Regions from separate parts of the Homo sapiens genome. Here all the other regions are reported to be linked to region 3. The links are microRNA targets in miRTarBase. Many come from high-throughput screens and were not tested one by one. Region 3 holds a microRNA gene; each other region holds the end of a gene's coding sequence.
The links. Region 3 holds the annotated microRNA hsa-miR-603 (CACACACUGCAAUUACUUUUGC, at 5,272-5,293, opposite strand). A microRNA usually pairs through its seed, bases 2 to 8, with sites in the 3' UTR of a target mRNA and lowers its output. Matches are read on the target gene's strand: a 7mer-m8 pairs with bases 2 to 8, a 7mer-A1 pairs with bases 2 to 7 and ends in A, and an 8mer does both.

Region 1: miRTarBase lists IGBP1 as a target of hsa-miR-603. Seed matches in the 3' UTR shown: 8mer at 6,362-6,369.
Region 2: the mRNA of LRP8 is a reported target of hsa-miR-603. Seed matches in the 3' UTR shown: 7mer-A1 at 2,456-2,462, 7mer-m8 at 3,832-3,838 and 7mer-A1 at 6,015-6,021.
Region 4: the mRNA of BMP10 is a reported target of hsa-miR-603. Seed matches in the 3' UTR shown: 7mer-A1 at 2,998-3,004.

The regions. Positions count from the first base shown.
Region 1 is chrX:70,164,226-70,172,504 of GRCh38, reverse strand. IGBP1 (immunoglobulin binding protein 1) reads right to left here. Exons shown (of 7, transcript NM_001551.3): 7 at 6,181-6,672. The coding sequence ends at 6,524. Among named protein-coding and RNA genes, the nearest start is that of DGAT2L6, 9.1 kb to the left of the region's middle.
Region 2 is chr1:53,240,821-53,248,878 of GRCh38, reverse strand. It overlaps LRP8 (LDL receptor related protein 8), which reads left to right. Exons shown (of 19, transcript NM_004631.5): 19 at 1,823-6,515. The coding sequence ends at 1,861. MAGOH-DT (MAGOH divergent transcript) reads right to left here. Exons shown (of 3, transcript NR_038953.1): 2 at 6,934-7,032; 3 at 6,096-6,441. Among named protein-coding and RNA genes, the nearest start is that of MAGOH-DT, 6.2 kb to the right of the region's middle.
Region 3 is chr10:24,272,759-24,281,037 of GRCh38, reverse strand. MIR603 (microRNA 603) reads right to left here and starts at 5,353; the gene lies at 5,257-5,353. All of the region lies in intron 2 of KIAA1217, which reads right to left.
Region 4 is chr2:68,858,276-68,866,554 of GRCh38, reverse strand. It overlaps BMP10 (bone morphogenetic protein 10), which reads left to right. Exons shown (of 2, transcript NM_014482.3): 2 at 1-5,646. The coding sequence ends at 924. Among named protein-coding and RNA genes, the nearest start is that of BMP10, 9.0 kb to the left of the region's middle.

The DNA of each region.
Region 1 (8,279 bases), not on the chromosome of region 3:
TACATTTTGAATAGCTGGTATATTGACATGACTCAGAATTCAGAAGGAACTATGCGTGCTCAGTGAAAAGTGTCCTTCCCACTCCTGGCCTCTAACAACCCAATACTCCTCCCCCTCTAGGGACCTCTTTTTGCATACACAAGCAAATAAGGTAATTTGCTTTGTTAATGAATAAAGAAACTAACAGTAAAAACCTGGAATCATTCCAAATGTTCAAAATCTGGGGCTGGCTAAGTAAGCGATTATATAGCAACATTATAGACTAATCTGCAGTCATTAAACATTATTAAAATTATTATAAGGCAGACTGTAGTATTACATGCTAAGTTTTAAAAGCAGAATATAAAGCAGACCTCCACATTGAATGCACTTGATTAAAAAAAAACAAAAAAAAAAAACCCCAAAAAAACTGGTCTCTTCAGTGATAGATGGAACTGATCCATCAGCCTGAGACAGAAATGATTGCTGCTTTAAGGTGAAGGCATTCAAAGTTTTCTTTTATGTAAAGTTGTTTGAATATGAAAAGAAAGGGGCTGGATTCTTGTGAATCTGCCTGATGAAGTGTGATTCATGATGGGACTCATTCATTCAGTAATTCATTCAGCAGACATTTGAATGCTTGCTTTGTCAGGAGGAAAAGCCAGAAACAATGGTGAGCTTCTGAGGATGAGCACTAAGTAGGTGATGGGGACATTAAGAAGCTCTGATGGAGAGAGAGGGGTGGGGAATGTGATGAGTTCATTGTAAGACTGGGGAGTTTGAGTTCAGTTTATTCATCAAGGGTAGCTGTATAGCAGATGGCAGGATACAGGTCTGGGAGCTCAGTGAAACAGCCAGGGCTAGTGATAGCCGCCAGTATATTTGTGGACAGGGAAGCCGGAGGTGGAATGGAGAAGTTAGACAAGGAAAGGGGAAGACAGATGAAATAAAGCTGTTTATTTCTGCAAATCTCTTAACACCTCTGAGCCAGGGCCAAGGGCACCAGGGTAGCAGAGGCTGTATCTGTTCCTGAGTGTTGAAGCGCCTCAGAGTTCAGGCAGAAACCCTTCCTCCCAGCCCCTGTCTCCCAAACCCCATGCATGCATGGCCTGGGTCTGGTCTTAGTTGTCCTGAAAGGCCTGGTAGATGAAGAGATGCTGTGACTGGCTTAGAAAACATGTAGGAACCCCTGAATGAGCATCTGGGAGAAAATATTTAAAAGGTTTACCTGAAGCCTAGGCAACATAGCAAGACCCCATCTCTACAAAGTAAAACATAGAAAAAATAGCTGGGTGTGGACATGTATCTATTATCCTAGCTACCAGTAGGCTGAAGCAGGAGGATCGCTTGAGCCCAGGAGTTCAAGGCTGCAGTGTGCAAAGATTGTGCCTGTGAATAGCCACTGCACTCCAGCCTGCGCAACATAGTAAGGCTGTCTCTATTTTTAAAAATGAGTTGATGGCATTCAGGTTAAAGAGAGCAGAGTTCGCGGTTACAGTGAGCTGTGATTGCACCATTGCACTCCAGCCTAAGAAAGAGAGCAAGATTCTGTCTCTAAAAAAAATAAAAATAAAAATAAAAGATTTACTTGAACAAAGACCAGCTAAGTAAGGCTGGACAGGGAAAGGGAAAGTAGGTGGGCTTGGCATTGGGGGCAGAAATGTTCCACTGCGGGTTGAGTGATGCGAGGGCCCCAGGAGGGGTAGATTTCTGAGTGGGGTTTGCCCCTAGTGAGCAGGTCTCAGACTGTCCCTGAAGGGGCCAGCAGGAATTTTTGCTCAAAACTTGGACAGAGAAAGGGAAGGGGTTATCCCCAGAGCAGTGTACCACCAGGATGTATTTCCTACCTTCATATGTCCTCAGGCCAACCTGGAATCCAGGCCCAGCTCAACCACTTAGAGCTTAGTGATCTTTGGGAAATCTCTTCTCTAAACCTCAATTTCCTCATCGACAGACTGAGACTATAATAGTATCTCCCTTGGGTGTTGTGAGGATTAGAAATACTGTATGTAAAGCTCCTAGTATATAGTAGGTGCTTAATACACAGTAGCCATAATTTTTATTCCTGCTACCACACTGGACTAGGCCAGCCTAAGACATTGCTCACTTCTACTCTCTTTGAGGGATTTGTTGCCAGTTGGAACAAGACACTGAAATCTAAGACTTTGCCCATCATCTTTTCACATACATTTGTCAAAGGTGGCCTGGCAGGCAGATATGTAAAAACTGGTTCCCAGTTTTCACTGTGCATAGTTCTTTTTTTTTGCTGGTCATTTCAGCACATGAAGAAAAGCATGTCACAAACCTCTTGGCTGGTGGTGAGATCTAGAAGACTGATTGAGAAAGCATCGGAGGAGCAAGGGTTTAAGTCGTGAACTGCTGAATTTAAAAAAAAAAAAAAGGCCGGGCACGGTGGCTCATGCCTGTAATCCCAGCACTTTGGGAGGCCAAGCAGGAGGATCACTTGAGCCCAAGAGTTCGAGACCAGCCTGGGCAACATGGTGAAACCCCATCTCTACAAAAAATACAAAAATCAGCAGGGTATGGTGGTTCACACCTGTAATCTCAGCTACTTGAGAGACTGAGGCAGGAGGATCGCTTGAACCCAGGAGTTTGACACCAGCCTGGGCAACACAGGGAGACCCCTTCTCTATTACCAAAATTAAAAAAAAAAAGCATCCCCTCCTCCGTCCCTCCAGCTTACCAACAGCCTGCTGCTCTTACTCGTCACTCTTGTGTCGTGTCTTATAACTGTTCAAAGTGCTTTTGCCTATATGATTTCATTTGCTCCCCACCCTGGCCTGTGAGGTAAGTAGGGCAGATATTGGCTGCCATCTCAGAGGGGCTAAGACAGTGACAGAGCTGGGACTAGAACCCACGCCTCCTTGTGATGGACAGAAACGAACCGTGCCCTGTTGACTTGCACCTTTGATGAGTGGGTTAAAAGGAATCTGTGAGGAAATGATGCACAGGTTTTGGGGACAGCTGTTTTGCAAGGAGACAGTGACAACAATACCCTATTGCTGTAGCGTGCCCAACAGAGACAGGTGGCTATGCTCCTGTTGTGCTAATGAGCAAACTGCAGGCGCAGGGTCAGCGGAGGAGGACTTTCTGGGGTTTGGGTGACACAGAGAGGCGGTTTTACAGAAGACTTTGCCTGGGGCCACCCAGCTTGGGAGTGGCAGAGCCCCCAGAATTGAGACTTTGACTCAGGACTCTAACTCCAACTTCTTGGGTTTGAAGTCAGCTCATTTCTCCCCTTGCCCTTTCTCACAGGGGTGTTGAGAGGAACAAGAGTGGAAAGGACAAATCAGTGTGTAACGGCATTAAAGGAAATAGTGCCTAGCATTCTCCTCTTCCAAATCTAATTGGCCTCCACGTGAGGGCCGCAGAGAGCAAATACTTTGGCTAAGCTGATCTGTTTGCGTGCTCTACTTCTTAGCTGTGTGAAGATATCAGATCTTGCTTGACAGGTTGTGAGAATGAAATAAGCAGCATATGTGAAAGTGTTTTGCAAACTATGAAGCAGTACTATCATTGAGAACTTTAAGAGTCTTTGCTTCCGGGAATCCAGCAAACCCAGCTCACTCTAGGACCCTGAAAGAACTCGCCTCTGGTGGGAGTAGAGAAGGTGGTGCTTTTTTGGTTTCTCCGGCCTTCAGGCAGACAGAACTGGGGAGGAAAATGGAGGAAGATGAGCTTGCTCACCACCTCCGTCTTCTTATCCCCCAGCTGAGGGGGCAGTGGCGGGGGAGCTGGCATAACCTTTGCTTTGGTGAGTCAGCTAAGAAGGAATTTCTAGAGCTCCACTGATGTAGACATGGTTGTTTTAGTTTGGATTTCTAAAGCTGCTCCTCTTTGAAGCAGCTTTAAGACACAGCTAAAAGCACAAGCAATTGGGAAGCACATGGAAAATGACAGCAGCATAACATCTTACTAGTGTGAACTTGAAGAAATCAAGTTTCGCAGGGTCATTGTATTAATAGTGTGGGAAAGTGCCTGGCACATACCAGGGGCCCAATATCTGTCCATTTCCTTTCCCTTCTCAGTGGACAGACTGCAGTCACTAAGCTAACAGAAAGCACTTACTCTTCAGTTGCCTGAGTTTACAGATAATAGGTGCCATTATTCATTTAATCCTCACAGCCCCAGGAGACAGCTTATCTACATACACCGAAGAAAAGGCAGCTCAGAGTCTTATTGCCCAAGGTCACGTCACACAGCCTGCAATTTTTGATTTTCTTATTTTTTAGTTTTGGGGGTGCATAGGTGTATATATTTATGGGGTACCTGAGATGTTTTGATATAGGCATGCAATGCATAACAATCACATCATGAAAAATGGGGTATCTATCCCCTTAAACATTTCTCCTTTGTTACAAATTATACACTTTTATTTTTAAATGTACGATTAAATTATTATTGACTATAGTCGCCCTGTTGTGCTGTCAAATAGTGGGTCTTATTCATTATATTTTTTTGTATCCATTAACCATCCCCATCCCCACCCCAGTACCCTTCCCAGTCTCTGGTAAATCTTCTACTCTATCTATCTCCATGAGTCCAATTGTTTTGTTAGTTCCCACAAATAAGCGAGAACATGCGAAGTTTGTCTTTCTGTCAGCCTGCAATTTTTAAAGCCAGAATTCAAACCCACCTTGTCTGGTTTGCCTGTTAGATATCAGGATGTGTGAAGCTGTTTAACTGAGCTGGGCCTCCTGGAAGGCCCAATCTTCAACGGACTTGGACCAAGAGGTAACTCCAACCTGGCCCATTTGGGAATAAACTCAGGGTGGAGTTTCAAAAACAGGAAATAGGCCATTGCTAGAGGCAGGCTGGCAGCCACTGGAAGAGAGCGGAAAATGTTGCTTTCCAAATCCTTGGGGGATTTAATCTGTGCTCTCCCAGTTTCAGGAGCTTATGTTGTGAGGGTGAGATGACTCCTCATTAAGCAGTATACAAATAGATTATTGGTAGTCTTCTGTCATCTCCCACGAAACACAACCTCCCCCTCATCACCTGACAGCCCTCCACTAACCACCCTATAAACAAGAGGGAACTGAGTCTCCTTTTCAAACACCTCTCCTAAGCTAGACTGCAGAAGCTGGGAGGGCTGAGTCATCTTCCTCTTGAAAGAAAACCCGTGTAACAAAGCCACAGAAGTATGCTTTCTGTGCATATCATTTGTTTCAACACATGGCTGCTTTTATAGGATGCCAACGCAAGAGCTGAGGACACTGTCTTCTCTGTTCCCCAGAAAGTAGGTACCCTGCAGTGTCATCTGTACTGTCCCCCTCCTCCACACCCATTATCTGCGTGACTGCAGGCACCTCACTAAGCAGCCAAACGACCACCACAGCACATTTACCCAGGCCATTAGTTTGGATTGTGCCAAGTATCTCACAGCATAGGCAAGAAGGGCCAATTGAAGAGTTAGGATGGCTGGGTGCGGTGACTCACGCCTGTAATCCCAGCACTTTCGAGGCCGAGGTGGGTGGCTCACGAGGTCAGGAGTTCGAGACCAGCCTGACCAACATGGTAAAACCCCGTCTCTACTAAAAATACAAAAATTAGCTGGGTGTGGTGACGGGCGCCTGTAATCCCAGCTACTTGTGAGGCTGAGGCAGGATAATTGCTTGAACCAGGGAGGTGGAAGTTGTAGTAAGCTGAGATCACGCCATTGCATTCCAGCAACAGAATGACACTCGTCTCAAAAAAAAAAAAAAAAAAAAAAAAAAGGCTATGGCCTGAGGCTACTCTTCACCCTAAGGGATATATGGTAAACGCATGAGAGTAAAGGCTCTGGCCTCAGATACATACACAAGGATGACTTTTAAGAGTGCCTCCTCTATCTCTCATTTCTTCTGGCCAAGCTAGGACGAGGTAGATAGGACTGGGAAGTAGACTACATCCCTTTGCGGTCCATTCACCTTACAGCTATAGTTTCTGAGAATAGTGCTGTGTACCAGGGAAAGCTCTGGTTTTTATGATCTCCCCTTGTAGAGTGCTGGATTGCTTCATGGTGCAGGGTGCTACTTATATGGCTTCATATCATATGCCCAGTAGGAAGGAGAATGCCTGGGCAGATCTGATGCTGGACCAATTCACTGCCCACATCAAAGGGCATCTCCCCATAAGCCCAGAGACCCACAGCTAAATGTCCCCACTCCCCCGGCAAAAAAAAAGCAGCTGATAGCCATATTTCTGTACAGGCTCATATAATAGAGGGGACTTTTATTATTTTTTCAGAGAATTCGGATAGCCATAGATTATACAGAGCCATTTCTCAGCACTCTTTTCCTTCCACTTAAGAAGCTGGAATACAACATGATGAGGATGATGCCAAAACAAGACTGCTGGTTCATATCATCTAGGGTACAAATACACACTTAATCACTTGACACTTTACTGAATGCAAAGCAAGATTTAGCATCTTTGCCCTCGTTGTACAGAGCTGAAGCAGGAGACCAGGGAGGGGAGGACTGCATGGTTTTCCTTGGCAGGGGAGTTGTGCACCCTGCAGTCCTGTGGTGTTGTGGGAAGATCAGCCCATGTTCTGTCGGTTCCCATAGCCCCTAGGATGGGTGTCCTTCCAGTCATCCCACTCCCGGGCTCTGTGGAGTGTTTGTTCATCATCCTCTTCCTCCTTTTCTTCTTGTTCTTCCTGTTGCTGAGCTGCTTTTCTGAATTCCTCTAAAGTGGAAAAATTAGAAAGGGAGGTGAGAAATTGAGGGAATGTTAATAAGTAACGTCAGGGGCCTCAGTTCCACTCTGAGCACAACCACATGCAATGAGAACAGGAATACAGCCAGCTGCCTACCCTGAGCCCGGCGGAAGCGGGGAGAGAACTTGCATTACCTAATATATCGCATGTTAAAAAATAGTACGAAAGGATGCTCTAAGTGGTTTCCACAAGAAGGCAAAAATCATAAAAGGTGCCCCTCAGAATGAATTCTATTTTGGAAGAGAATTCTTGCAAAAATGGCCAACACCCACCCCCCCCAAGCCCCTAAACAAAAACATTACCACCACCATCAAACAACCCCTGCAATCCAAAAACAGGAAAGAAAAAATATTTATGAATTTGTGATTTGTGAGTTGCCAGGGGGGTGGGATTGCAGTTGACGTTTCCTCCTCCATCCATTTCCTTTACTATAGTCATACATAAGTTTTTGTGCATAAAATTGAAAATCACAGGGCAGTTGGACCTACCAGAAAAGAATGCCTACGTATTATTTTGCAGTGCTTGAAATAGGCTCTGAGGTCCAAATGGCATTTATCATGCAGTGTACACCCAAAAGAAATTAAACCAACTGCTGCATCTCTTTTGCATTTTTTTTCCTTTGTGAGGTAAAGCAGCATTTTCCTGGCTACTCTGACTTTGCTCATGAGAAATAGTCTCATTACTATGAATGAAATGTGTGGGGATCTGATCTCTTCTAACAGCTCAGGAGTCTTTTTTTCTGAGATAGGGTTTCTCTCTGTTGCCTAGGCTGGAGTACAGTGGTGTGATCATGGCTAACTGTAGCCTCGAACTCCTGGGCTCAAGTCATCCTCCTGCCTCAGCCTCCCGAGTAGCTGGAACCACAGGCATGAACCACCACACTTGGCTAATTTTTACATTTTTTGTGGAGACAAGGTCTTCCCCTATGTTGCCCAGGCTGGTCTCGGCCCTCCCAAAGTGCTGGGGTTACAGGCGTGAGCCACCTTGCCTCGTTCTTTTCTTTTAAACCCTTTACTATAAAATAAAACATGGTGGAAACCACACAAGTACATATAAAACAAATTTTTGTAAGGAGGCCTTATAGCCTCCACTCAGGTCAAGAAACAGATCTCCTGTATCCACCCTAAAAGCCTCTCTGTGTACATTATACAAATCAACTCTCCTCCCCTGCAAAAGTAACCTCTATACTGCTTTTTATAGTAATAACTTCCTAGAGTTCATCACAGCTTTATCACCCAAGTGCATACCACTAGACACTGTAATTGTCCATTTGTACATTCATTTTTTTACTCAATGTATTTTTTAGTACAGAGTTGTGCAACTATCACCACAATCCAATTTAAAAAATTCTATAACCCCAAAAGATCCCTTGTGCCCATTTACAGTTAATTCCCATTCCTTCCCTCCCTGCCCCCAGCTCCTAGAACCATGAATCAACTTTCTGTCTCCATAGATGTGCCTATTCTGGACATTTCATACACATGAAATCAAAATCATGTAATCTGTGATCTTTTGCGGCTGACTTCTTTCACTTAGCATCATCACCTTTTTTTGTTGTTGTTGTTGAGACAGTCTT
Region 2 (8,058 bases), not on the chromosome of region 3:
AAGTACAAGTGAGATAGCACGTGTGAGAGCACTTTGTGACTTACAAAGCACTCTGCACATGTAAAGTGACATTATTTCCAGAGAAAGAAATGACTCAGGGGGAGTTACTCCCGATGAGTGTTAAGGACCAAGTAATAAGCTTCTGCCAGTTGCAGAGAAATAAGGAAATCAACATTTAGTGAGCACCTACTGTGTGTCAGACACTGTTCCCAGTGTTTTACATATATTTTCTCATTTAATCTTCATAATAACCTTATCAAGCTGATATTATTCGCCCCATTTTGCAGATGAGGAAACTGAGACTCATAGAAATTGAATAACTTGCCTAAGGTCATAGCCAGGAAGTGGCAGAACCAGAATTCAAACTCCAGTCTGTATATACACAAAAGCCCATGCTCTTTCCTTTATATCGTGAGGTAAATAGCCTTGAAGCTCTGGAAATCAATATTCTCAACAACCTGTCTCTCCTCTGTCCATTTCTCGGATAACTGTACCATCACTACTGGGGCCTATCTTTGGCCTAGAGATCTGTCTTAGAGAGAGTGGGAGGGTAGCTAGACTAGAATAAGATAGTCTTAAATATCTACACTGGTGGAGGATGGCCATTGCATTCATAAAAAAACTACAGATAACCCAAAGATGACTTGAAAGGCAGTAGAGTTACTTTTTATCATATGTAGAATGTCCAGAGATGGGAGATACTAGTCTGATTCTATTTTATGTTGGTTACGTTGACCTAGGATATTCTGGGCCCTATGTGTTGTTAGGTACTATGTTAAACACTCTCTGTGCATTATCTCATTTGATTCCTCAACAACCCTGTGAGGTAGGTCCTGTTACTATTCCCATTTGATAGATGATAAAACTAAGTCTCAGAGAAGTAAAGTGGCTGGCCCAAATTCACATAACTATGAGGAAAAGTACTGAAGCTGGGGAGGGTCTTTCCAAAGGAGGGTATCTGGGAAATGGAAAAGAGGCAAACAAGATTACATCAGGACTAGCTGGGGAAAGTTAGATGTGTACCCTGGAGAAGAAAACACTCAGAATGAACGGAAGGGAATTCAAACACCATCTATAAATTTCAAGGGTTGTCCTATGTAGAACTGTCTCTGAGTCTGAGATGGAATCAGGGAATGTCAGAAGATATAAACAAACAAATTTCACATTAATATAGGAAAGAATTTAAATCTGTTGTCCACAATGGAATAGACTGGTTCAGGGGTTAGTGGGCTCACCTTCCCATGGTCAGCCATTTTTGGCAGACAGGAGTCTAGCATCTACCTAATGACTGGAAAGCAGGGGTGAGGGAGAGAGGGATGGAATTTAATTAACCTGCATTGCCTCCCAACTGTGTTTAATCTGTTGGGAAGGTGCAGTATATTACCTTTCTAAATGTGATTAGCATGCTAGAGACAAGTAACCCCATAGCCTGAAATTTAACATTTGCCAAAGCTAACCCACTGAAATTGACCAAACCTAAAATCCTATAAGGGAGGATTAAGAAAATTTAGATCTGTGCAACTCTTCTTTACAAAGATACAAAACAGAATGATGAAAAAATCTACAGCTTTGGATTCATACAGACCTGGGATCAAATTTTAGTTCAGCCACTTGCTATGTGATCCAGAACAAACCCTACTTAAGCTCATTGAGTTTTGTTTCTCATCTGTAAAATAAATAGGATAAATCCTGTCTCTTAGGATAGTTTGAACATTATGTGAGCTAATACCTGTTAAAGTAACGTAAGTCTGTGATTTGTCAATACTAAATAAATAGTAACTCTTATGGATCTAATGATGAATTCTTTGGTTTGTCTCCCCAGCGAGTGGCATTAAGCCTTGAAGATGATGGACTACCCTGAGGATGGGATCACCCCCTTCGTGCCTCATGGAATTCAGTCCCATGCACTACACTCTGGATGGTGTATGACTGGATGAATGGGTTTCTATATATGGGTCTGTGTGAGTGTATGTGTGTGTGTGATTTTTTTTTTAAATTTATGTTGCGGAAAGGTAACCACAAAGTTATGATGAACTGCAAACATCCAAAGGATGTGAGAGTTTTTCTATGTATAATGTTTTATACACTTTTTAACTGGTTGCACTACCCATGAGGAATTCGTGGAATGGCTACTGCTGACTAACATGATGCACATAACCAAATGGGGGCCAATGGCACAGTACCTTACTCATCATTTAAAAACTATATTTACAGAAGATGTTTGGTTGCTGGGGGGGCTTTTTTAGGTTTTGGGGCATTTGTTTTTTGTAAATAAGATGATTATGCTTTGTGGCTATCCATCAACATAAGTAAAAAAAAAAAAAAAACACTTCAACTCCCTCCCCCATTTAGATTATTTATTAACATATTTTAAAAATCAGATGAGTTCTATAAATAATTTAGAGAAGTGAGAGTATTTATTTTTGGCATGTTTGGCCCACCACACAGACTCTGTGTGTGTATGTGTGTGTTTATATGTGTATGTGTGTGACAGAAAAATCTGTAGAGAAGAGGCACATCTATGGCTACTGTTCAAATACATAAAGATAAATTTATTTTCACACAGTCCACAAGGGGTATATCTTGTAGTTTTCAGAAAAGCCTTTGGAAATCTGGATCAGAAAATAGATACCATGGTTTGTGCAATTATGTAGTAAAAAAGGCAAATCTTTTCACCTCTGGCTATTCCTGAGACCCCAGGAAGTCAGGAAAAGCCTTTCAGCTCACCCATGGCTGCTGTGACTCCTACCAGGGCTTTCTTGGCTTTGGCGAAGGTCAGTGTACAGACATTCCATGGTACCAGAGTGCTCAGAAACTCAAGATAGGATATGCCTCACCCTCAGCTACTCCTTGTTTTAAAGTTCAGCTCTTTGAGTAACTTCTTCAATTTCTTTCAGGACACTTGGGTTGAATTCAGTAAGTTTCCTCTGAAGCACCCTGAAGGGTGCCATCCTTACAGAGCTAAGTGGAGACGTTTCCAGATCAGCCCAAGTTTACTATAGAGACTGGCCCAGGCACTGAATGTCTAGGACATGCTGTGGATGAAGATAAAGATGGTGGAATAGGTTTTATCACATCTCTTATTTCTCTTTTCCCCTTACTCTCTACCATTTCCTTTATGTGGGGAAACATTTTAAGGTAATAAATAGGTTACTTACCATCATATGTTCATATAGATGAAACTAATTTTTGGCTTAAGTCAGAACAACTGGCCAAAATTGAAGTCATATTTGAGGGGGGAAATGGCATACGCAATATTATATTATATTGGATATTTATGTTCACACAGGAATTTGGTTTACTGCTTTGTAAATAAAAGGAAAAACTCCGGGTATATGTATAGATGTTCTTCATTATAGACATCTTCTTTGCTTTTCTTGGCCTTGGGGGAGGAAGGGAGAAGTGCTCTTTTCTACTTGTGGGGTCTCCCATTGGAAACATAATCCTATAGTCCCAGAAGGATTCAGTCCCCAGTGGCTTTCCCATCCAAAGAGAAAGAGTTTGAGTTTCTTAACTCTGCTGTTCTGCCACTTACTCCCACTAGACAACCAGGGACAAGGTGCAACATGGAAGTGTTTGACTTAAGTAGGAGCAGAGGAGCTGCATCTAATCTCATCATACCTGGAACTTGACACACTTAAGCAAATGCCTTCCCATCCCTACCTGCCAGATGCCCCCAACTCAATGAAGTTGGATGTCTCACCAGCTTGATACCCTTTGAATTTTCAGTCAGACATTCTGGAGTTCTAGCATCCTGTACCTAGGACCTTCCTCTGTGTCACTCTTGGCCTCCTAAACTCTAAGAAAATAACTATATTCTGGAGCTTGGGCAGTGTGTTTTGCATAATCCAGCAATCTCCTCATGACATGCATGTGTTGATAGTCCTGAAACATTCATTGAGAGGGTAAATGCAGTTGACCTAGAATGACCAATACCAAACAGAATTTTAAGAACAGGTGGCCAACTCCTATGGAGCTTACTCACATATTACTATTCTTTTAAGAACGGAAAGTAAAATTATTTTTGACTGAAGAAAAATGATGACAGTGAAAAACATGGAAATGTACTCAAAACAAGTGACTTTTTCTGTAACCTTCCAAAGAAACTGAATTTTCCAAGGAATTAAATGATAACAGTGGCTAAGGCATAGTTTCTAAACTTTCAGTAAGATCCTGGCATTCACAGAAAAAAATGATGAATGGGGTCTGGACATACAGCCTGAGATCTCAAAATGACAATGAAATTCACAACTTTTTCTCAGAGACATTCATGTTTCCTGCATATGCTACAACTGCAGTTTGAAAGAGGCAGCAATGGGAGCAACCCTTTACAAGAAACAAATTGTGATATATTCATGTGTTGGACGGCAGTAAATAAGATGAAACCTGAGGAGTCAGATCCACCTTCCCCCATTCATAGAGGCTTTTCAGCCTCATTTTGAGGTACAGTTACATATCTTTTGCCTTTTGCCCCCGTGCATAGCTATCTACAGCCAATCACAGATCACAGAGTCACTGGACTATAGAGCTGGAAGGAAGCTCAGAGACAATGCCAAGGGGGCAGAAAATTTATCAGAAGCCAGTCCCAGTGCGTTTCCTCCATTTCCTTCTGCAGGAAGACTATTTTGGGCTGCCTGAACATTGTATCAAACCTGCTACCTATACTATGGTCTACCTTTCCTCCAGTGGAATTACAAAGGCACTAACTGAAATGCCTTCTAGAAACAGAGAAAACGAAACTGTACTTATTTACTCTTGATACACAGATTATTTATAAAACAGATTGAAGTAACCTGTTAACTGGCAAAAAGAGAATGAGATCGGATTTAAATGTATGGCAGTAAGTCCTATTGATCCCTCCAGTTATCTCAGTATGACTGCAGTATATTCATTCACTAAAACCACTCACTAGATACCAACTACACACCTGGCACTGCAGATGTAAAGGTCAGTCACACATGTTCTGACTTTACAGAGTTCACAGTAGCAGTGGAGGATGATATATGTGGAAACAAAAAAGGCATTGATTCTATTCAGAGCACTGTTAGGGCTCAAAGGAGAGAGGGGTCTTTCCACCTAAGAAATGAGGAATAGGGTCATCATAGAAGTGACCTTAAGTCTTAAAAATTAAGAAGGGGATTCCAAGCTGCTTCAGACAGAGACACATCGAGCTAAAACACAGAGGTATGAAAGAGCACAGGGACTTTAGGAATTGCACAGTTCATTCTAACAGGAACAAAAGGCTCAAGGGGGGCAAGAAATGAGGCTGTATGGAAAGAGATTCAATGTAAGCACTTTATAAAATAGATTAATTTCTGATTCAATGAAGCATTTCTTGATCATTGTGTACAAGGCACTACATGCATCATGGAAAATTCATTAGGATGCATTGCCAGCACTTTGCAGAACTGATATTATTCAGCCTCAAGCTTTCCAGTGGCCAAAGGGAAATGCTGACTGCTTTTCATATATTTGAGTCAAAGATTTTTTATATGGTCAATGAAGACTAATATAAGGGCAGTGGGATTTTCACAGATGCATGCCATGTTGTCGAGAGCCTCTTAGATTTTCTCAACTGTGAGAAAGAAAAACGAAAATGTTGAAGACGTTGAGTCTGGAGAGGGGATACTAATCACTGTCCAGTTGGGCACTGGTGGGAATGGGGAAATGGCACAGGAATGCAAGCCTCTCCACCCTACCCCCCGAACTCCAGCCATACACTCATCGTTTCACAAAATATAAATGAGTTAGCATTAAATGTTTCAGAGTAAATAATTCCTTTTCCCGAAATGCATGAAGATAGAGTAACAGACTTCTCACACTGTATTTTTAGGGTATGGAGAATTTAGAAGGTTAAAGAATTACTGCTTCAATTTTTCAGTTAAAAAAAAATCAGGAAGCTCTGTTCATTCAGGCTATGCACCATGTGCACAGTCAAGAATTAGCAGAAACCCTCTGCATTTACAAACACTTTGTGCTATAAAAAAGTAATTTTTAAAAAGCCACGTGTGTGTGTGTGTATATATATATATATATATATATTTAAAGCCAAGGTTTTGATACTTTTTTACAAAAACTACAAGAGAAAACAAATATACCTGTCCAAACCATATACTTTTAAAAGAGCATTTTTTTTTCCATACAAGCTGTTGTTAATTTGGGGGTAAAGTGCTGATTTGCAAACTTCATCAAATTGTTCCCAAGTGGATTCTCCTTGTTTGTCTCCCCCTACCAACCCCAAAGTTACCATATTTGATGTAAGAATCAGGCATGTTAGAATGTTGTGTCACACTAACTGATTCTGCTCTTTTTGTCTTGTCATTCAAGTTCCGTTAGCTTCTGTACGCGGTGCCCTTTGCAGTCTGGTGTCTCTTCCAGAGGCGAGGGGGCTGAGGATGGGGTGCTGCATCTCACTAGCTATACTGGCATCATCTTGGTAAACTGAAAACCAAATGTGGACATTTGTAAAATCAGTGCACTGTTTCTAGAGAGAGATTAAATTCATTTAAAAAAAATCTTTTAAGTTTTGTTTCATTGTAATACTTTAATGAGGGGGAGTGAACTATTACTGAGTCCCTAATGTGTACCAGTATTCTATATAAATTATCCCAATCTTTGTCAACAATTCGGTGAGATAAATACTATCAATACTATCCACTCCCATTTTATAGATGAGAAAATGGGCAAAGTAACTGCCCAAAGTCACAAGGTTATTTTTAGTGCCCCCAAAGAGCAATTGTACATGTAGCATTCTCTGCCTAAATTTTCCTTCTCTGCCTCCACATGACTAACTCCTATTTGTCCTTGAGTACTCCACTTAGGTAATGCCTCCTCCAGGAAGCCTTCCCTTTTCTCTAAGACTAGGTTAGATAACTCACCTCTGTACTTCGATAACAATTTTTGCCTACTTGCATCCCAATACTTCTGCCTTACCATTCATTCCCATGCCATTGGGGTTGCTTTTGCCAAGGTCATCCAGGACCTCCTCGATTATAAATCTGGTAAACATTTTCAGTCTTGCTCTTCCTTGACCTGGAAGCAGTAGTTAACACTGTTAGCCACTCTTTTCTTGGCATATTCTTATTTTGGCTTCCATGATAACATTTCATGTTTTTTCTCCTATCTCTCTGGCCACATCTTAGTATCCTTTGCCTACCCCTTAAATTATGGTATTCCATCTCAAATCCATCCACTTTTCTATCTCCATTACTTTTTTTTTTTTTTTTTTTTAAGAGACAGGGTCGTACTCTGTTACCCAGGCTGGAGTACAGTGGTAGGATCATAGCTCATTGCAACCTCCGCCTCCTGGGCTCAAGCAATTCTCCTGTCTCAGCCTCCCGAGTAGCTGGGGCTACAGGTGCACGCCACCCTGCCCAGCTAATAGATTACTTAAACTACTTATCTGAATGTCATACTTCTAGTCTTTTCATTTTCCAATCTAACCTACAAGACTGCAGCCAAAGTGTCTTTCTAAAGTACCATAGATGTATCACCACCACTTCTTTCCACTTTCCTGCTTAAAGCTCTTCAACTGCTTTGCTGGCACAAAAATCCAATATTCTTGGGTTTGCCCAAACTCTTTTAATATGGCTTATAAAACCCTTCATGATTTGGCTTCTGCCCTGTCTCCAGCTTCATCACTCACTACTCTATATTCTAATCACACAGTTCTGGGCCTCCGTCTGGAACATTTCCTTCAGGAACATTTCCCTAAGGACCCTGCACTGGATTAGGAGTCACCTCATGTGCTTCCATAGTCCTCTGTGCTTCCTTTATTGGTAATCTTATCCTTACATTGTAATTGCTTGTATGCTCCTTAACTGCCTCCTCTGCAAGCTCTGTGAACAACTGTCTTGCTCAACATTGTATCCTCTCTGCACATGACACTCAGTGGATGCTCAAATAAATGATGCTGAATGCAGGCACTGCAGACACACAGACCATGCTCTTTCAGTTACACCATGTCTCATATCCAGAAACCTGGATTACTTCACAGCCTGACTGGAGTTGTGTGTCCTTTAAATTTCTCAACACTTTTGTTATTTGCCACATCTGAAG
Region 3 (8,279 bases):
ATTGCCTATCAGCAGTCTAGCTTTAATAAACAAAACACACTGATTTGAAATTAGCTATCAACATCCCCATCTATGGAATACTGACCTTCACATGTGTTGATATTGTGCTATTTGAATATAAACCCAACTTTCTCTAGAGTATTTGATAATTTTATATTCTTAGGTAGAGAAATGTCCATCTTAAGTTGAAGAAGTATAATTAGGTTTATTCTTTTTTTTTTTTTTTTTGAGACGGAGTCTCGCTCTGTTGCCCAGGCTGGAGTGCAGTGGCGCAATCTCTGCTCACTGCAAGCTCCGCCTCCCAGGTTCACTGCATTCTCCTGCTTCAGCCTCCTGAGTAGCTGGGACTACAGGCGCCTGTGACCATGCTTGGCTAATTTTTTGTTTTTTAGTAGAGATGGGGTTTCACCATGTTAGCCAGGATGGTCTCGATCTCCTGACCTCGCAATCCACCCGCCTCCGCCTCCCAAAGTGCTGGGATTACAGGCATGAGTCACCACGCCCGGCCAGGTTTATTCCTTTATGGAAACATTTTATTTACCTGTGCGGAAAAGGTCATTTTCAATCTAGAATCTAGGTATATTCAAATTAGTGCTGAAATTCAGCATCTTTTCATTTTACTTTATAGCACCCTTTCACTTTCCTTCACTTACATTATTCACCTGTGTGTACTCCAGATTATTTCAGAAATCTTAGAAAAGCAAAAATGTTTGTTAGAGTTTTGCAAACAGGCTTCTAGCCTTTTGTCCTTAAAATACGGACCCCTATTCCTTGCCAAATCTGGTGAGTCAAGGTCTTCATCCAATTTAGAATTCATTAGCATGAATGACATGAAACTGCAGATATTTGACTGTTTTTGACATACGTAATCACCAATATCCTATGGTTCCACCTAAAAGACATGAGCATTTCTTTTCTAGAGAGGCATCAATGATTAAGGATAAAGGAAGAACATCAACCTCTACCAAACCGATCCTCATGGGCCTAAGCACGCCATCCCATTAAAAAAGATAAAGGGCCTATATGTTCATTTTATTTCAGAGAGTTATTTCTTCAACAGAGGAGCCTTCACTGAGTTCCATGCACCATGAATTTTCAAATCGGTTTTTAAGAAAATCAAACACTAAACTTAGAGAACCCCCTTAGAATGTTAGTTGCAACTATCAGATGAACTTGTACCCTCTTAACGACTATTTTTTCTGTCCACTAGCAATATTATTTTTTTACCATAATAACATATTTAGGATGTATTTTTCTCCTGTCACTGTAAAGAGAAGTAAAAAGTTTTAACTCCAGTTAATTGGTAAATCTGTGCTTCTATTTTGAATGTATTACCTTTTAGTTTTATAAGTTTCCATATAAATCCCAGATTCATAATGAGAAGCTCTAATTTCATTACACTTTTTGATTGAAATAAAATATTTAATAGCTATTTATGTTTCATATGCAGAATTCATAACCCTTTGGTTTATAATAACTTTCTCATAGACTCTTCTGCAAAAATCCTTCAGTCCCTTTCACAAACACTTCATTTTCTAGGGAAAATTTTCCACATACTCATTAATTAGTAATATCTCCCAGTTACATGATAATATCTTCACTTGAGCAATATTGTAGATTTTATAATGATGTATTAAAGATAGTTATGACTGAGTCAGATGCCATCAATGCCAACAGACTTTGAAGTCAAGGATGCTACTGGACTTGGGTTATGCAAAGGACACAATAGCCTCTGCAGATCTTTTTTTAAAAAAAAAAACAAACAAACAAAAACACCACCACCACCAACAAAAAAAAAAACAGACACTAGAAATGCAAAGAAGAAAACAAAACAATGGGGAATCCCTGCACTGTTTCATCCTCAATCATCCCCATTAATTTGAGTAAACAGTAATCTGAGCTGGGTGTGGTGGCTTATGCCTGCAATCCCAGTACTTTGGGAGGCCAAGATGTGCGGATCACCTGAGGTTGGGAGTTCAAGACCAGCCTGGCAAACCCTGTCTCTACTATAAATACAAAAATTAGTGGTGGCCCGTGACTGTAATCCCAGCTACTCAGGAGGCTGAGGCATGAGAATCGCTTGAGCCTGGGAGGCAGAGGTTGCAGTGAGCTGAGATTGGGCCGCTGCACTCCAGCCTGAGCAACAGAGTGAGACTCTGTCTCCAAGAAAAAAAAAAAAAAAAGTAATCTGAGTACACCAACAGCAGATTCAAATTACTCAGTCTTCACAGTTAGCAACTTTAACTCAGTTCTTATTTAAAAACAAGGAAGTGAGTGGCCAAAGGAAGTAAATTTCTCTCTAGCATAACACTGTAGAGCACGCTAGTGGTAACACCCACTTTATTTGCAGTCCCCACTAGACAGCACACATTAGGTTACTCATCTCTTTCATTCCTTCTGTCTCCCCAGTGGCTAACATCATGCCCAGAACAGCAGAGTTGGTATCCAAATATTCACTGAATAGACAAATAAGACTCAATACAAGGGACTTGCCACTTGCCTAGTGCCCACATTGTGTCTGCCACTTGCCACATGCTTTCGATAGATTATCCCTTATCCACACAACTCTGCAAGCTCTGTATTATTTTTGGACACTTCACAGATGAAGGTCAGTGGGATTAAACAGCTTTCTCTAAGCCACACAGCTCATGAGTAAATTCAAAACCGGGTCTGTGTAATTTCAAAATTCCTGCTTATCTCACTCCAAACACTGCCTCTCCCTGGTCTGCACACAATGGTCTGAGTTCTAGGTTTCCGGCCTCACAGAGTAACTCTCATCCATCTTCTACCTGACAGTCTTTCAGAAATGAAGACTTTCCAGAAGCCAGTGGTCAGTCTGACCCTTTACACCGCCACTGTGGCTGTAATGTGCTTCTCCACAGTGTTTTGGCCTGCTCCAAAGTGGCTCATGCAGACCCTGCCTCTCCTCGCTACTTTCACACACAGCCTAAGAGGTGGCGTCATCACACTCCACAGCATCTCACCCATGACGGCGTCCTCGAGCTGCACAGACTGTGCGTCCGTCCTCAAAGGACAAAAGGCATAGGTCCATAGAGCTGCTGTCCAAAAGCATCACAAAGGGAAGCCAGCAAGCACTGCTTTCTATCACAGGGGAGAAGTTCCCAGCTGATTGCTGGCAGTGCTGCCACTGTCTTTTGCCCGTCAGAGGGTGAGTCAGAGAGAGGACTCAGGAAAACCTACTGTATTAGGCCATTCTCATGCTGCGATTAGGACAAACCTGAGATTGGGTAATTTATAAAGGAAAGAGGTTTAATTGACTCACAGTTCTGCAGGGCTGGGGAGGCCTCAGGAAACTTACAATCATGGTTGAAGGGGAAGCAAACACGTCCTTCTTCACATGGCAGCAGCAAGGAGAAGAATGAGTGCCCAGTGAAAGGGAAAGCCCCTTATAAAACCATCAGCTTTCATGAGAACTCACTCACTATTATGAAAATAGCATGGGGAAAACCGCCCCCATGATTCAATTACCTCCCACCAGGTTCCTCCCACAACATGTGGGGATTATGGGAACTACAATTCAAGATGAGAAGTGGGTGGGTACACAGCCAAACTATATCATCTGCATAGCAGGTGGCCTTGTCTCCCCATTCCTGGGCTCCCCCAGGGCAACCTGTCCCCCATCCCACTCACGAGGCTTCCCTCTAGGAAGCCGCTAAGAAGAGACCTGCCACCCACCTGCTTGCTCCACTTTGAGTGGGAACCACACCAGGGTCAACCTCAGAAACATCTGAAAAGTTGGAAGTAAATTCAGCAGTCTAGCAAAAGCAGTCTTCTGCAACTGAGGAATCCAGGTTGAGCGCTGCCATGACCTGTATTTGAAAAGCTGCCACCTTCCAATCAGGCCAGAGTTAAAGAGCAATTTGAAAAGAGCAAGAATTTCCAAGCTATAAAACTAGGGACATGATTCTAAGAGGATAAAACATTTTAAGATTGGTTTAAAAGCTTTTGAAAAATTTAAGGCCAGGCATGGCAGCTCACATCTATAATCATAGAGCTTTGGGAGGCCGAGGTGGGAGGATTGCTTGAGGTCAGGAATTTGACACCAGCTTGGGCAACACGGGGAGACCCCATCTCTACGATTTTTATTTTTTTTTTAATTAGCTGGACTTGGCTGGGTGTGGTGGCTCATGCCTGTAATCCCAGCACTTTGAGAGGCTGAGGCGGACGGATCACAAGGTCAGGAGTTCCAGACCAGCCTGGCCAATATGGTGAAACCCTGTCTCTACTAAAAATACAAAAATTAGCTGGGCGTAGTAGCACATGCTTGTAGTCCCAGCTACTCAGGAGGCTGAGGCAGGACAATCACTTGAACTTGAGAGACAGAGGTTGCTGTGAGCCGAGATCGCGCCACTGCACTACGGCCTCGGTGACAAAGTGAGATTCCATCTCAGAAAAAAAAAAAAAAAAAGCTGGACTTGATGGCATGTGCCAGTAGTTCCAGCTACTAGGGAGGCTGAGGTGGGAGCATCACTTGAGTCCAGGACTTCAAGGTTACAGGGGCTATGATTGTGCCACTGCACTCCAGCCTGGGTGACAAAGCGAGACCCTGTCTCTTAAAAATTTTTTGTTTTTAAATTCAAACCCAGTTTTCCTCAGGACTCTTATTAACAGCTATCTAAGGAATAGGAAGGGATGCCCTCAAACCGGGCAGAACGAGATGGAATTCTAAGTCATTTTGTCTTTTGCATTTCTGAAAAGACTTTCATTTTTCAAAGGACATCAAAACTGAAATGCCTTATAAATCCCTTTGTGTTTCTGCGTTCTGTTCAATGGCATCAATAAGATGGATGATCAGCAAATGGCATCAAACTCCATTTGTATTCTTATTAGAATAATAACACGTAAAATGATATGAAATGAAACAGCAGATTCCAATGACCTTGTAGCCCAATTCAATTACTATTTCACTAAATAACGACAAAACTGACAGTCCTCAAGCTGCTGAATTTATGAATTAAATTCAACTTCTCTTCTACATTCTGAGCAGGACTGAGTGGAAAAAGAAATGGTCAGTGAGGACTGGGGAGGAGTTTCCTTCTCTTTGCTATTTAATGCAACATCGCCAAGCCCACTGGAGGGAGGGGTATGGAAAGACAGTTTAAAAAGGAATATCAGGACCAGAAGGGAGAACTGATGGCCAGGGCCCTTGCTATAGTTTGCTCCTGCAGATGAGACACTGCTTTGGAAAATTTTATCATTAACCAAACTGCACTGATGCTAAAAGTCAATAAAGCCAAGTATTAAGTTGGAGCAAAAGTAATTGCAGTGTGTGCCATTACTTTTAAATGGGAAGCACTGCAATTACTTTTGCACCAAACCAACAGCATCAATCTTGCCTGCATCTTAAGCAAAGGCTTAATGAGAAAAAAAACATACTTGAGACTACTAAAGCATTATACAGTCAGTCCTCATTACTAGCAGATTCTGTATTTGTAAATATGCCCATCACCTAAAATCTGTTTGTGACCCTCAAATTAATACTCCCAAATGTTTGCAGTCATCATAGACATGGCAGGACAGTGGACAACTGGAGTTTCCCAACAAGCACGTTCCCAGGTGGCGTCTAACTAAACAACACTCTGCTTTTTTGTTTCAGTTTTCATACTGTAAGGAAGCACCCTTTCCACAGTCTTTTTAGTGCCACAAGTTTCGCATTTTTGTGTCTTTTTGTGTCTGTGTGTGCACCTGCATGCGTGTATGTGTGTGTGAGTGACTTCACTATTTAAAATGGTCCAAGCCAGGTGCAGTGGCTCATGCCTGAAATCCCAGCACTTTGGGAGGCTAAGGCAAGAGAATTGCTTTGTGACAGGAGTTCAAGACCAGCCTGGAATATACTAGTCATGTTCATTGGGGAATTAAGACCTCAAAAACATAGCCAGACCCTGCCTCTACAAAAAAATAAAATTAAAAAATTAGCTGGGCATGGTGGCGTGTGCCTGTAGTCCCAGATATTTGGGAGGCTGAGGTGGGAAGATCACTTGAGCCCAGGAGTTTGAGGCTCCAGTGAGTTGTGATTGTGTCACTGCACTCCAGCCTGGTCAAGAGGGCGAGACCCGGCATCTACAAATTTTTTCTTTAAATAAGAAAAGAGAATAAATTTTAAAAATAAGAAATAAAATGAAATGGCCCTTAAGTATGGTGTGGAAGTACTATTTGGCATTCCTAGGCTCAAGAAGGCTGTGATACACCTTACACAAAAAATAAGTGCATTAGATAAGCTTAGTTCAATGCTAATGAATCAATAATATATATTTTAAAAGGTGTCTTCAAACAAAAACACAGGTAAAATAAGGATTTTTGTTGATTGGTTGATAAAAAGGTAACCAAAGACTCACAGGAACCTAACCCTGTATTTCCCCTAGGAAATTCAGTATTAACTAATAAATTCAGGACTCACTAATGCAGTATTTAGGGCAAGTTTATAGAACATCAATACTGTGAATAACAAGAATTGACTGTATTTTCAAACTGCAGTAAAAATGCCATAAGTATGTAAAATAGGACTTGTAGGAAGACAACAAAGTATATTTAGATGTAGCAGGTTCATCTTTTTTACTTTTTTTGCAGATGTGAGAACTTGACAATTTCTAACCACTGGACTTAGAATGGAGAACACAGCCAATCTGGGTGACAGAGCAATATTCCGTCTCAAAAAAAAAAAAAAATTAGCTGGACTTGGTGGCATGCACCAGTAGTTCTAGTTACTTGGGAGGCTGAGGTGGCTGGTCATGAACTCCTGACCTCAAGTCTCCCAAAATGCTGGGATTATAGGTGTGAGCCATTGTGCCTGGCCAGCAATGGCAATATTTTCTTACTACCAACTCTCAGAAAACATACATTATTCTCCATAATTATCCAATAAATTTGGACCCATCTGAAAATAAGCATCAGTCACTTTTCAGTTTATACATGTATGCTATTAGTCATTACTCTGGTAATATGTGAAATGTAAATCATTGCCTTATTACTTACTGGATATGGGCTGTTTTTTGGTTGAGGTATGCGTCTAATTTATTGGTACTACATTAGAAAATGCCCTACACCAAATATCTGCTCTGATTGGACTAAGATCCTACATTTTTATATTTGGGAATATTGCTCAACTTGAGAAAGGCAAGATGTCCCAATCCCTGCAACAGTAACTTGGACTTTTTTTTTTTTTTTGAGACAGAGTCTTGTTCTGTCGCCCAGGCTAGAACACAGTGGCACGATCTCGGCTCACTGCAACCTCCATCTCGTGTGCTCAGGCGATTCTCCAGCCTCAAGCCTCCCGAGTAGCTGTGATTACAGGCATGTGCCACCACACCCGGCTGATATTTGCATTTTTAGTAGAGACAGGGTTTCACTATGTTGGCCAGGCTGGTCTCGAACTCCTGACCTCAGGTGATCCACCCACCTTGGCCTCCCAAAGTGCTTGGATTACAGGCATGAGCCATGGCGTCCAGCCAATAACTTGGACTTCTAATTAAAGATGTGACGTGGGCCAGTTATGCATAGAGGTAAGCCAAGGGCCTCTTATGTGACACCCTCACTGGACTGGGACAGATTCTGCCATGTCATTTACCTTGAGTACTCCAAAAGGAAGAACATAAAAATAATAATGTAATGAAAGTAGCAAGGGTATGTTTAACTTCAAAGAAGATCATTAATACTTAGCCTGGACTGTCTGAGAATATGACTAGAGAAAAGGGAATGAAGGAAAGAGGAGTACTTAATCTATGCTTATTGTTCAAATGCTCTTCTCTGCTCACACTTTGCAAATGTTAATAAGAGTCTGATCTCTTGATAGTAACCATAGGGAAATTTATCAGCCTCTAAACATAATTTCTCCCTTTTCTCTATCCTGAGTCTCCAATGAGTTGGGCAAAATGCAGAGGCATCTCATTCATTCAGAAAATGCCATCTTTTCTCTCTCTCATATATGTAGTGTTGCTAAAATTAACTAAAAAATTAACTAGTTTTAATTTTCTTCTTCTTAAAGGCTTCTGTCCATAACTGTCCAAGGCGCAGAAGGGCACAGACTTTTACGCAATGAGAGTCCCCTGACATTCTGCTGTCTAAGACTTCATTCTCAGAGTGCAAGGACCAGAGAAAGAACTGGGGTGGATGCTATTCCACGTTTGCTCTTTTCATTAAGACTTTTCAAAGAAGACTTTATTCCAACATGCATTTAAAAGAAAAAGAAATGAAGAATTCTTCCTTCAGGCGAATAACTCATAAGGGGAAAAAAACCCTTGAATATGATTTATTTCACAGGG
Region 4 (8,279 bases), not on the chromosome of region 3:
GTCAGTTTTAATGGGCTCCGAAAATACCCCCTCCTCTTCAATGTGTCCATTCCTCACCATGAAGAGGTCATCATGGCTGAACTTAGGCTATACACACTGGTGCAAAGGGATCGTATGATATACGATGGAGTAGACCGGAAAATTACCATTTTTGAAGTGCTGGAGAGCAAAGGGGATAATGAGGGAGAAAGAAACATGCTGGTCTTGGTGTCTGGGGAGATATATGGAACCAACAGTGAGTGGGAGACTTTTGATGTCACAGATGCCATCAGACGTTGGCAAAAGTCAGGCTCATCCACCCACCAGCTGGAGGTCCACATTGAGAGCAAACACGATGAAGCTGAGGATGCCAGCAGTGGACGGCTAGAAATAGATACCAGTGCCCAGAATAAGCATAACCCTTTGCTCATCGTGTTTTCTGATGACCAAAGCAGTGACAAGGAGAGGAAGGAGGAACTGAATGAAATGATTTCCCATGAGCAACTTCCAGAGCTGGACAACTTGGGCCTGGATAGCTTTTCCAGTGGACCTGGGGAAGAGGCTTTGTTGCAGATGAGATCAAACATCATCTATGACTCCACTGCCCGAATCAGAAGGAACGCCAAAGGAAACTACTGTAAGAGGACCCCGCTCTACATCGACTTCAAGGAGATTGGGTGGGACTCCTGGATCATCGCTCCGCCTGGATACGAAGCCTATGAATGCCGTGGTGTTTGTAACTACCCCCTGGCAGAGCATCTCACACCCACAAAGCATGCAATTATCCAGGCCTTGGTCCACCTCAAGAATTCCCAGAAAGCTTCCAAAGCCTGCTGTGTGCCCACAAAGCTAGAGCCCATCTCCATCCTCTATTTAGACAAAGGCGTCGTCACCTACAAGTTTAAATACGAAGGCATGGCCGTCTCCGAATGTGGCTGTAGATAGAAGAAGAGTCCTATGGCTTATTTAATAACTGTAAATGTGTATATTTGGTGTTCCTATTTAATGAGATTATTTAATAAGGGTGTACAGTAATAGAGGCTTGCTGCCTTCAGGAAATGGACAGGTCAGTTTGTTGTAGGAAATGCATATTTTCCTCTCCAGTTAAGTCCCTTTCAATCTGTTTTCTCTTTGGACTTGCCATTTCCTGGCAATGCCACCTCCCTGTTGATTTGAAAACAACCCCTAGGCAAAATACAGTGTCAAAAGACACACACTTGTGTATGTATATTTGTACATACATGAACTTACAAAAATCTTTTGGTTCTATGCAGGCAGGTTATACTCATCTACATGCATGACTCACTCAAATGTATGCATATTAAAGGCCAATGGTATGTTCTCTGTTACCTCTTCTCTGAGTAGGATTTAAGTCAAGATAATTGACATCAGGGTTTTAATCATCCTAGGAAGTATTACCCTTCCTAAATACTCTGGAAATGTAAGTGTAGCTTTTGTCAGTTGAGTTTCTGTAGTTGCTCAGAGAGGAGGGGCCTGGCAAAGGATGCTTGAAGGGAAGGGTTAATTGATACAGAAACCAAATGGACTTAAGAGGTCTTAGAGGTACAACAGGAAAAAATGAACCCATGGAGGACCAATGTGCTCCAGAGGGCAACTCCTGGTCAAGGCAGGAAAACAGAAGAAACCAGCATGAAATCTGTTCCTGAGACAATAGGAAAGCAAGGCCATGAGTACTGGCCATTGCTGCTGCAGAGAGTAGAGGGGTTGGGAGGGTACTTGAAGGGGAGAAAGGGAGAAAGGGAAGAGGATATTGATGTTATCCTCAGAGGCTATCCTCAGATGTGTCTGTAAAACCAAAAGTGGTTCTGTTTAAAGAATTAAATCTTTTGGACAAAATAGAAGTATCAAAGACTAAGAGGAGGAAAATCAGAAGGGGTCTGTCTGTTGGAAGAAAGGATGTTAATATCTTTCTTCACCTGTTAACACTGTTCCCTTGTCTCAGCACCCCTGCTTTCCTCTGCTCCATCTTCTTCCTTCCCTCTTTCTTCTTGGCCCTAGTGCCTCTCACCTTCCTCCCATCCCTGTGTCCCTGCTCTTCCCTGGCCTTCATGATGCATGCTGTGAACTGGAAAGGGACACCTAAGTGCCTTTGCTCTCAGGGTGAAAGGAGTTAGTGTTCTAATTTCTAAATCTTCCCGTGATATTTAATTTGATTTTATTTTAATAATATCCTTTATCAAATGTTTTGTTCATGAAGAATACTTAGATATAAGAGAAAAGAAAACCAGAATAAGTAAGTATAAGAAAAAGAAAACCAGAGTCCAAATGAATGGATTTAAATAAACGAATTTATGAATAGACACACAAGCAAATGACTCAAAAGCCAAGCCTGAATTTTGAAATCATGATTGTTTCATGGTAGAAACCCAGTAACTTTCCCATCTTCTCATCTTACCATCTTCCCATTTTGCAACTGGCCAGGACTGAAAGTGGTGAGGAAGTGTTCTGCACAGGAAGGGTCCGGTGGGTTTTCCTGGCAGGTGGCAGCCTCCAGTCTTAACCCCTAACCATTTCCCTCTACCTGGCAAGCATATTCTGGGCTTTGTGCAGGAGGAACCAGAGCAGAGCAGAGCAGTTTCCAAACTGTTCCAGCATCTCCAGGCAGGGAACATGGATGGTTCCTGTTAGAACCAGGAATGTGGTTTCCAGTACGTCATCCCCCATTCACCCCTACTCATCTTAAGGAATGCTTCCTTAAGAAGTCTGACACTTTTTTCTTTTTTTTACCCTGGAAAACAATCAGTCCCCTTTTACAAATCTCTTAAGGTTATAAACTCAAACTGCACTAGACAATAGAGGCAAGGAAAACTATTTTGAAGAAGGCCCAATTTGAACCTCAGCTCGCTAGATCTGTTGTCTGCTGGGTGAATCCTGGGGAATTCATTGCTCATGGAAGAGTGGTGTTTTGACCGTCAGTGGGTATACAGTGATTGATGCTTTGAGAAAGCCATGCAACTCAGAATCACTATTTGTGGAACAGCCTCCATATAACATGATGTGTGTATGTGTGTGTGATGTATAGCTGGCTTTGAATAACCACGCTTAATACCCTCAGTGGAACGTGGTGCATCCTTCATACTCCATGGTACACAATGTATACTCACATACTCCAAGGTACTTCTTATCCTTTCTAAAGGACACTGTAATACATACACAGTAAAACCTCAGCTGACCAGGATAGTCCTGGTTAGATAAAAATTAAGCAAATTTTCTTTATGTCTAATACATATGACAGTGGTGTGCTGGTAAAACCCTTACAACCAGCAATCCAGGGGGAGAAAAAGCCCTGATTTGTGGATTTCAATGCTGCAAACGCTCCTACATGGTCTATCTTGAGCTGCCAAGGTGATGTCAACTGGCTTGCAAAACTTCTAAAACCTAAGTCAGCTCTTGGGAGCTGTGCACTGGTGCTGGCACACCGCTGACATTTAGTATCCCACTGACATTAGCACACCGCTGACATTAGCACCCTGATACTAGAATGTTAAGGATGTGCCAGCCCTGCTTTCCACTGTGTGCGCTGCTGGCTCCGGGCTTCTGGAGAAATCTTGTCTCGAGCACTTATAGTCACTCTTCTGTTAAAGAGATATGAAAATATAGGCTGTTGGCGATCAGGCTGCATAGCCCAGTTGTTTCTTTCTGCCCATCCAGATGTAAACCTGCATTTCTATGATTTTCTGCTTCCCTGTGGAAAGGGAGTGCAGAGAGCAACATATTGTTATTCAAATGTTGCTAGTTGTATTTTTTTGGCTTTTTGTCAGAAAGTGAAAAGACACAGCCCGTAGAGGAGTTCTCCCAGCTCCCACCGGAACCCCGGCAGCACACCGGTGTCACTTTCAACTCCTGCATTGACAGGAAGCCAGAATATTGTCAGATCCTTAAAAAGGTAGAATCTTACTAATGTTTCTCTGGTCATAGACCTTCTTCTGGGTCCCATGCCAGTTTTTTTCCCCCTTTTATTGCAGAATTATCATCACCGAAGTTGATATAGCTAAACAACTCTTGAGGAGAATTATAGCAGAGGGACTTGGGCAGCCCACAGCCAAAATATTCATGTAAGAGTTTCTAGGCTTCCCACTATTTATTGATTGATATATTTATTTTTGTAAAATATTGTAGAATACCAAATATTTTATTTTTATGTCTGTGATTCCCTTTTGGATAGAGAGTCTTCTGGGCTTCAGAGTATGGCTCACATATAATATATGGCCTGTATTTCCATCTCTCTCTTTTTGCATCAGAATATTCTATTGGTTTAAGGAATCTTGCCATAGCTTGCCATAATTTTGTATATTTGTGTCTTGCAGGCATGCTGTGCCTACAAGCATGCTTTGTAGTATATTTTCTGATTTGTAAATAGTACAGTTTTAACTGAAGTGTAGATGTTCCAGGAAATATTTAACCAATACATTGTCATGCAGTTTCATAAAGTGATGTTGTCAGTTTATCATGAGAAGCAAATATTGTCAGGCTGTGAGAGAATGTGATTGCTACTCAGTAAACGGAGATGCTATTTAAATGAATCTTTTCATCCCCCAAATCTGGTACTTCCCCTCTGAATTCACCTGTTGCCGTCACTGACCCAGAAATTCAGAGATGTGATTGGTCAAATTCATTTGTAATTGGACCAATTACTTTGTAAATGTCAAAAATGTTAGCTTAGTGATTTCCAAAAGAGTCAGCCCCAAAGTGCCGAATTCTTTCCTGATGTGTAAATTTTGGTCCGGGGAATTAATGACAAAAACCTTTTTTTTTTAAGAACTGTTACTAAATGTTTCAGTATTTGTTATGATTTATATTCTTCAAGTAAAAGATATTTTCATATAAGAGAATTTTATGTATTCTTCTTACTTGATTCATCAACAGATTATGAAGCCTAGCAGTGTTCTGGCAAAACCTTTTTAACTTGCCTAGAACACAGAAGGGATGTTGCCCTTTTTAAGGTTGTAGATCTTTTCAGAGTCACTGTGGGTCATTCTCAACCCTTTGCAGTTCTGCAAGCTCACATATGGTGCAAGAGGAAATGCTGGTATGACTCTGTGCATTTTCTTGCCCCCAAACAGGAACAGTTGATTTCCTACATTAAATGGAAGGTAGATGTGACTATGGAAGAGAAGTACACAGGGGTGTTTCTGCATGTGAAATATTTGTCATAAGTTAAAAACCCATCATGGAATAACTGTTTGTTGTGATCAGCATGTTTTTATCACACATGGGCACTGGTTTTGTGAGCACCTGGCTTGATAGTGGTGGGGCGGCCAATGTGCCAGCGCCCGCCTACTGAGCATTCATGGACATTGGAAATCAGCGAACACCACAGACACACCGAATCAGCTGATGCACGGTCATGTTCTGGGGTAAAACCTGTTCATTATCCATGTCCACATTTGTATAGTTATCACTAGACTAAAATGAAGATGGAAATAAATATTTTACCCTGTGTTCATGAACCAAATGTGTACCTTCAGAGTCTTTTTAAGTAAAATAAAAAAATTATTTTGGTGATAATTATTTGCAGCTTATTTTTCCTTGAGGTAAGGTATTTAATTTTGCACACTCCCCACTTTTTCATGTTTCTACTTGATAACATATCCCGATGGAATAAAACTAATTGCTATATTAATAAAGAATGGTCTGAAGAAACCATAAGTTGTTTTTGGCTTGTAACTGACCTCAGTAGGGAGTGGGATTTTGTAGCTCCATGGTTCTCCCACTTTATATGACTTTGTGTAATTCCCATTAATGCCACAGGCATTCACAGAAAATACAATTGGCTCCCTTTTGTCAGTAGCTGGGAAATATTTCTTCTTTGAATACCAAAGGAGGCAGTTTAGAGGTAACAGTCCTGGCCAACAGACAGACCTTGCTGCTTTTTCACGAAGGAAATTCATTCTTATGGCAGAATGTGGAATTTGAAGGGCATAGGGACAGCCCCAGGTAGAATAAAATCTCTTCCATCAGAAAATCATCCTGCATCACTTTTTTTGAGGGGACGCCTCCAGTGTCTCAGCTGGCAGGCTGAATCTGGCAAGTGTGTCGGAGGGAAGCACAGCCTTCATCCCTGGATGAGCACTGATAAGGTAAGACAGGGCTCTCCCATGGAGGAAAGGGAGCTGAGAGCCCAAGATGGGGCTGAGCCCAGGACTGGACTAAACAGACCTGAAAAGCCACTCGTGTAATTTGATTTTGAATTCTTTAGCAACCTATTCATTCTCTTCTTTAAATAAGTCCGTTTATAAAAGTCTGTCACAATGTGGGGTCTGGAACCCATCTCTGCAATTGGTTTGACCTGATCACAGCTATGCTGGACCAGCCGCCTTGTTCTGTGATTTCTTTCCTACTGATACAGCCTGGAATTGCACTAGGCAGACACACAGCTGCAAGTTATTTGGGGGGTAGTTTGTTTACAAAGTAAGATAAAAAATTATTTTCAAAGCTCACATTATACATTTATAATATGTTACAGGTTCTAATAGTATTCCTGATGTGAACTGAACTTTGTGGTATGGGGAAATCATGCCATGAGATCTCTGCATGTGACTCCAGTCACATGAATGAGAACCCACTTTTGTATAGAAGTGACTATTTGTAAATAAGGGGCCTATTTGGAGAAGGTGAGAGCTTGTTAACTTGGGTGGTTTAAATGGATTATGTGATTATCTCCAACTCACTCTCCTGAACTGTCAGTTTACAAGAAACAGCTCCTGCCCTCTCTTAACCTTCCTCAGACCATTCACACAGATCTAAAGTAGCTCATCTCATTCCAAGAAGAAAGCCCAGAAATGCATAGACAACGCAATACGTTTTTACTCTTAAATGTGATTCTGTGAATCTTATAAAAAATTTAGGCCACTCAGTTCAAATTAAGATTGATGGGAGGTGTGAAGTACCATTGTCAACTCAAGATTTGCTAGAAAGTTTTCACACACAGAACACTGAGCCCACTTCCTTGCACAGCATGGGAATGGTTTTAGAAAATTTAGTTCTAACTCCTTATTAGTATCTCACCTAAAATGCGTACCATAACCTTACTAATTATGAGGAAACATCAGATGAACCTATTTTAAGAAGATTCTGCACTCTTAAAAAGTCAATGAAAGGCAAAGAAAGATTGAGAAACCGTTATAGATTTAAAAAGACTAAAGAAGCATGACAACTAAGTGCAGTATGTGGTCCTGAATTGGATCCTAGACCCCTCAAAAACTGGCCAAAAGCACATTATCTTTTTGTTAAGTCCACTGCTGCCACAGCTGGTAGAGAGTCCAACTTCATCCATTGTATGCTCTCAAATGACATTCATTTGTAAAAATCTTCTGCATGGTTATTGCTCTTTTTCTGAAACTGTGAGAAGCTATACAGGAGTAACTAGGCTTTTGCTCAATGCAATGTCCAAGAAGCAGGCAGACAGCATTAAAAATGAAACCTTTCTTTGCTCAGTAGCCAAACTCAATGCAAGGAACAGAGCTGAAGGGAAATTGTTCATCACATGGCAAACCTGATGTTAATAAATGAGCTGCAATAAAACATTTTCCTGAAATAACCAAACTCAACATGCTTTTCAGGCAATAAGCCATCTGTTTCAAGTGTTTAGAAAACGGATCTCCAATCACTGGTAATTTAAACTTCCTTATACCCCAGTTCAATGTTTGATAAGGAAAGAGTGCTAACAGGATGGAAACTGAGTTACTATATTAAGAAACCCAGCAAGAACAAAAACCAGCCCCCTGCAGCTATTTTGTTTATGCTCCAGACCCATCTGTTTTAATTAACGTAATATTTACATGAGACCAGCTCCTGTTACGTCTTTTGCTGCAAATATCGCATGTTTTATTCTTTGTTGTTGTTGTTGTTCTTGCTTTTAAAAGAGATCCTGCAAAAGCACAGTTGCAGACTATGCCTGAGCGAGGTGTACACCGGGGAATTACACCTGCATTCTAGCTCCCCAGGTCCAGGCTCACCTGCTTTGTGCAGTTTGGGGTCAGATATCAGGTTGCCAGATGAAATACAGGATGTCCAATTAAATATGAATCTAAGATCAAACCATGAGTAGTTTGTTTAGTATAAGTCTGTCTCAAATGTTGTACAGAACATACTTATACTAAATAATGTTGGTTGACTACCTGAAATTCAAATTTGGTTGGATGTTTTTATCTGCTAAATCTGGCAGCTTAAGTCAGGTATTGCTCAGAAGGTTACATGAGTGGAAAGATCCAGAGAAAGATGAAGTCGTTTGCCTTTCCATGCCTAGAAGGGCTATTCAGAAGATGACTAATCACAAA